Regions from separate parts of the Homo sapiens genome. Here region 2 is linked to region 1. Evidence: fine-mapped expression QTL. A gene starts in region 1. The other region holds a variant in brackets. All regions are shown on one strand. Distances are between the middles of the regions.

Region 1 (2,911 bases):
AGCCCGGAGATGGCCACCACCACCCGGGAGCCGCCTCTGTCCCCAGCTCCGAGGCAGACGCCTGTCTTGGTGGGGCATGCTCAGGCCACGGGAGGTGGGCAGGACCACTGTGGGTGCTGCAGGGGCTGCCGGCGGAGGCCAGGGCACAGGGAGGGGAGAAATCACAGCCTGGATCTCATTCTCAGCCCAAGCTACACGGAACCGGGGGTCCCTGCATAGAGGCCTGTCCTGCAGCATGGCTCTGAGCAGCTGCACACACTCAGGCCCAAGTGGCTCCTCCAATCATCTCTGTGCCCACGACTGTGCAGGGAATGGCCAGGACCCCAGGGAAATCCCTCGGACATCTGGCGCTGCCCGTCCACCCCAGACCTGTTCCTTTGTTCCCCAGCTCCCTCCCAGCCGGCCCCTGAGGCCCTCCCTAGGAGGAGGAGGTCCCTGAGGTTCTCTCTGTGAGGGCCGACCTGAAGGCCTGAGACGCCTCCTCCCACCTTTGCAGGTGACCCCTCAGAGGACCCTGGGCCCCCAGAGCCGAGGGTCATGGAGACTCCTGGGGCCCATTCATGGCCCTGGGACTGTCCCTACCCTGGTGGGACTAAGCCACAACCTGGAGCAGCTCAAGGCTGGCACAACAGACACCCATAAATTAATAAAAATAATTGTGAAAACACAAGCAAAACAAGCTCGTCGGCATCCAAGAGTTCTGCAGCAGCAGGGTTAGTCTGAGAGTTGCTCTCTCTGTCCCACCTGGGGCTCCAGGGCGCTGCAGTCCGTCACCAGAGGGACCAGATGCTCGTGGCCCTCCAAGGGCTTAGTGTGGAGCTACTCACCCCCATCAGCACAGAGAAGACCCACGTCTTGTGGCTGAAGCAGGGGGGCAGTCTCTTCGACAGCTGCAGGTCGCTCGGCTTCGCGTCTGGGGCATAGCTGGCGGGGTCTTGCCGGCCCCGCTCCAGCGTGGGCATCCGGTCATAGGCCAGCTCCTCTCTGAATGGCTCCTGGGTCATGGCACTTGGGGACACCACAGCTGTGCTGAATGTACAGCCACGTGTCACCAGTTCTTTATCTGGAATAAAATTATCATCGGCTTTGGCCACTCTGAGGAAACTTCAATAAGTTGTTTCCAAGAAATATTTTTTAACAAAAGAAATATTGTTCATACTGAAGTGCTCTAAATTTGAAGAAGAAAATGAGCACTTGAATCTAAAAGTGAAAAAGAAATAACTTTCCTAGAAAAACGGACCTGAATAGTCTGGGTTCAGGGTGAGATTCTACACTTTAAATGCCTCATTGATCCATCTGGGCCCTCCAGGTGCAACACCTGACAACATCCATCGGCAACTTCGTCCATGAACACATCACGCCGGGGACTCAAGCACGTTAAACTGCTCCAATTGGTAGCTAAACGAGAGATTGCAAAACATGCCTCTACTCAACGGCTTAATGTCTGAGCACTTACCTCCCCCGCTGCTCTGCCGTTGGGAGCACTGGTCTCTGGGTGAGGGACTTCCAGCAAGAAGTATTCACAAATGAAACAAAAGCTCAGCAAACTTGAGCTGAAGGCAGGGGAAGGAGAGCTGCTTCCTGAATATCAATGAGGGGAGGAATCGGGTGGATCGTAGAAATGTTTCGTGTTGGTTGTGTAAACCACTGCCTCGGAGCTGTCAGAACCCAACTAGGAAAGGAAGGGGCCCTGCCTGTGCCACTCGCCACAGAGCTCGGGTCTCTCAGAAGAAAGAAGCGTCCCTAAGAATAGAATCCCACCAAGTACACATTCTGAGCAGGCTCTGTTTCTGAAACGTAACTGTTTACTCGAAGGTCTTCTACATCTTTCCAAGTAGCCTTTTTCCATCCCCCACAGCCACACGGTGGGAACCTCCTTCACACGGTCACATAAGCATTCACGCACTCGGCTTAGCTGTGTGGCCTTGGGCGGCTCCGGATTCGGCCCTGTGGTTTGCGTGGGCAGCCCGGATGGCTGGTGGGCCCGGTCCTGCTGCCCCCTTTATCTCTGCTCACCAAGCAGAGAAAAACCACAGTAATGTGTGTCGCCCAGAGACACTGGCACCCTGACAACTACAGCAACGGGTTCTTTGTGCACATTGTAAAAAGGCTCAAACTAAAGTTTCTGAAAAACCAGCTCCTTAAACCATGAACCCACATTAAAACTTGAGCAAAGTCATCAGGTTCCAGACCATGGGATGTTCTGTTGTCTTCGTTTCAATCAAGCAAGAAGCTTTTAGTAAGCTTTTATTAGCTTTTAGTAAGTTTTTATTAGCTTTTAGTAAGATTACACATACAAGCATCCCTGTCCCAGTGAAAATGCCCACTAAATCACCTCGATCAAAATGCGTAAGTGTCAAGTACGCATAAATGCAGCTCAAAACACTTTGCTCAACCTCACCCCCACAGGAAACAGCAGTGATAAATTTTTAGCAATAAACGAAAGTTTAAGCTATACTAGTATTTTAGGGTTAGTTAATTTTGTGCCAGCCACCACAGCCAATGTTCTGTTGTCTTCATTTCAATCAAGCAAGGATGAGAAATAATTTTCAAAAACTATAATCTGTGAAGTCAAGAACTCATTTTAATGGATTGAGAAACCTCCCAAACTTCACTATCTTTTAAAGCGATAAACGGGATTAGTGGGAGTGGGTCCAACTGGATCGAATCCTCCTGTGTTTCTTTTTGTTTGGAAAAAAATGTTAATCGGATTTCAACATTTTTTTCTTTCAAAAGTTGCTCTCCACTTAGAAATACAAACAAGCTGCCCTGAACCAGAGGTTGCAGAGCAAATCCCTCAGCTTCCCAGATCATAAGTCATCACTTGAGAAATGCTCCCAAGTTTCTGTTGGCAACACTAGTTTCTAGAACAGGCCCTGTTCTTTCATACAATCTTCCAACAAATTCTTGC
Region 2 (2,911 bases), 34 kb after region 1:
TCGCACTGGGGGCAACAGGATTGTGGGGTCACCTGAAGCCTGTTTGAAGATGTGGTACCACTTAAGAATGGAGTTAGGAGAAGCAGTGTGTGATCTGGGACTTGTGGCTGGGGAACATAGGGACCACCCAGATTTTAACTGGAGGGTAGTCTCAGGAAAGCACTTCACATCCACGTGTTCTCTTCTGTAGTTATAAAACGAAAAAGCCCTGAATAGCAGGCTTTTTAAAGTGTAATGACTTAGTCCCGTGTGATGTGACTTTTCCTCCATCGGCTATAATAACTGATGGGTTTGAGCTCTGCTACTACCCCAGACCTCCCTGAGGGTGAGGTGGGTCACTTTTCTAATACTGAAAGATTCTGAATTTCAAATCACGTGTTGCCCCAGTTACAGTTCAAGATGAGGGATTATGGACTTCTACTTAGTTGCAGACTAAAGGGAAAACCTGTTACCAGGGAAGAATATCATGTGGTTGTTTACCTTTTAAGGTTAGACCATTGTTTGAATCACAGCACCACCACCAAGAAGCTGTGTGACCTTGGGCAAGTTTCTTAACCACTCTGAGCCTTGTTCTCATTGGTAAAATGATAGTCCCTGCCTCGTGTGGTTTGAAGATTGAATGAGGTCAGACATGTAAAATGTGCAGTTTTCTGGCACAAAGCAATCACTCAGTAAGCGAATAAGCAGTCATGATCCCTGGGCATATTATTATTGAGAAAAAGGGGCTCACTGCCTGATGCACTAGGGGCCATTGCTACGACAGTGGGTTTCTGAGAAAAGAAAAGCTTTGTATTGAAAACCAACCCCCAAGGAGACAGGAGTCAAGCTCAAATGTGTCTCTCTGTGCTGGCTTTAAGGCAGTAATTTTGTCAGAAAACGTTTAGTGGGTAGAATCTGGGATTAATAGGTGGTTGGTGGAAGGAAAAGGGAGGTCTGGAAAGGCCTTGGGTGTGCATAGTTACCCCTTCATGCTACCTCATGGGTCACATGTGCCAGTTCGGAGGGAGTTCGCATGAAACACGGTGGGAATCCAGGCTGTGACGTCAGTAAGCTCTGCACAAACTCCAGTTGTCCATCTTGGTTCCAGCTGATCTCAGCCAGTCCTTTGATGTCATAAGCAGGGGGAGACTCAGCGCTGGAGTTGTTTCTTATCACCCATCCTGCAGGCTCAAGAATTTCTGTTAGTCATCGGTTTCTTTAACTCTTTGGGGCACAGTTTCAACATCAAGGGGCTGTAGGGATGTAACCC[A/G]GAAAAGGAGCAGGAAAGTCCCTCGGCTGCCAGGCAGAGCAGAGTCCCCGAGGATCGAGTTTTAATGACAGGAGCCTTGGAGGATCCCTGGTTCTCATCTAGTGACACACCAAGCAGCTTTCTAGTTATCATTTGGCTTAACAGAAAGAGTGAAATACACAGAGCAACAGCCACAAGGATTTTAACCCCCTGGTCAGTTACTTCCCCGTGAATATTAACATATTGTGTGGGAGCGTATCTAAAACAAGGACATCAGTTTCCTGCCACTCAGGTTAGTGACCCAGAGTGCCTGACCCGGGTTGGCTCGAGCACACCTGGAGCACCAGGTGTCTGGACCTGCCCACGCGGGCATTGGCGGGTGCCTGCTTCCAGAGCTGTCCATCCGTGGCCGCCTGTCACAGGTCCTGCACTTCCTGCTAGGACCCCCAGTGCCAGGCAACTTTGGCTCTTAGCTAGAGCAGAGTGTTCACTTAGCAGATCTGTTCTGGGGGGCTTTGTAGGCCAGCACACTCCCAGCCAAGTTTCTAGCCACCCATCATGGTAGGAACCACATTTTGTTAATCCAGCGTGTCTGTTGAGGCCACATGGTTCTGTTAGCTGTTCAGGCTGTTGACCTAAGCCTGTAGTGATCATCCTGGTTTCCCTTTACCTTGTTCGTGTTAGTAATCAATGCTTTCCAAATACACCTCGCATGTGAGCGCTGACATAACCCTCAGCACAAACCATGGGGAATGTCTTCACCCCGTTTCTCCTGTTGAGGGCTGAGCCAGTGGAACCCAAATTGAGATGACAGTGAATGGAATACGGAGAGCAATGTGGGCTTCTCTCTTGGGTGAGACTGCACTGAAATGGAGAGCTGGGAGGGAATGAGGGATAAAGGTCCAACCAACATCCTTATTTGCTGAGTTGAGTTTTATCGACCTCACTCTGACTTTTCGTTTCCCTGTTCTCTCCTGGCTTCTCCTCTCCTGTCTGTCCCTTTCCCATTGTTTCTGTTGCCGCATTGGGCTTGGCTCCAGAGCAGCGATGTTCTTCATCCTGAACAAACTGAATTTCCCCAGAGAAACCACAGGCTGGGAAACAAAACAAAAACAAATCGAAGGCAGGACCCAGACAGAGCAGCCTTTTCCTAATGTGTGCTTTGCAGGGATAGGCCCAGGTGGAGTCCTGATGTCAAATATAGTAGGAAGAGCTTAGCTCATAGAATGTTAAAAACAGCTGTTTCCAAACTCCTGGTTCCAGGAGATTCTGGGGGTTCCAGCCCTGTTTTCCCACAGCCTGTGCAGCTACACTTACCTGTTTACAAATAGTAGAGCACTTGTGGGAACTGTTTGAGGAAAGGATCCCAGAGCTAAAACGAAAGCTTCAAACCACTGCCTTAGACCAGCTATTCATATATCAGTTCTTCTCAGGAAATGGATGGACTTTGGTCTTCCTAAAATAGGAAAGGATGTTTAGGTAAGAATGTCTAGTGATACCTGGTGATAAAGACTTATTTTTAACTTGTGAACTTAATTTTTTAAGGAACTCAAGACGACAACTTCCAAGTTTTCTTCCCCAATATCCAATCCCAGATAGACTTAGAAAATGTGTGGAACAAAAAATTGACATCCTGACTTTCCAGCCATTACTTGCAGAGGTAGGAAGTGTCTCATGGCCTGT

The links.
Region 2: its variant is fine-mapped to the expression of MLC1 in blood mononuclear cells (TOPMed, PIP above 0.99). The same link has a PIP of 0.9 or more in monocytes.

What each region holds. Positions count from the first base shown.
Region 1 is chr22:50,083,899-50,086,809 of GRCh38, forward strand. MLC1 (modulator of VRAC current 1) reads right to left here and starts at 1,528. Exons shown (of 12, transcript NM_015166.4): 1 at 1,457-1,528; 2 at 828-1,063. The coding sequence starts at 1,004. RefSeq lists an enhancer at 1,176-1,800.
Region 2 is chr22:50,117,729-50,120,639 of GRCh38, forward strand. MOV10L1 (Mov10 like RNA helicase 1) reads left to right here. Exons shown (of 27, transcript NM_018995.3): 10 at 2,774-2,888. Among named protein-coding and RNA genes, the nearest start is that of MOV10L1, 29 kb to the left of the region's middle. The variant A/G (reference allele first, on the strand shown) is at 1,250.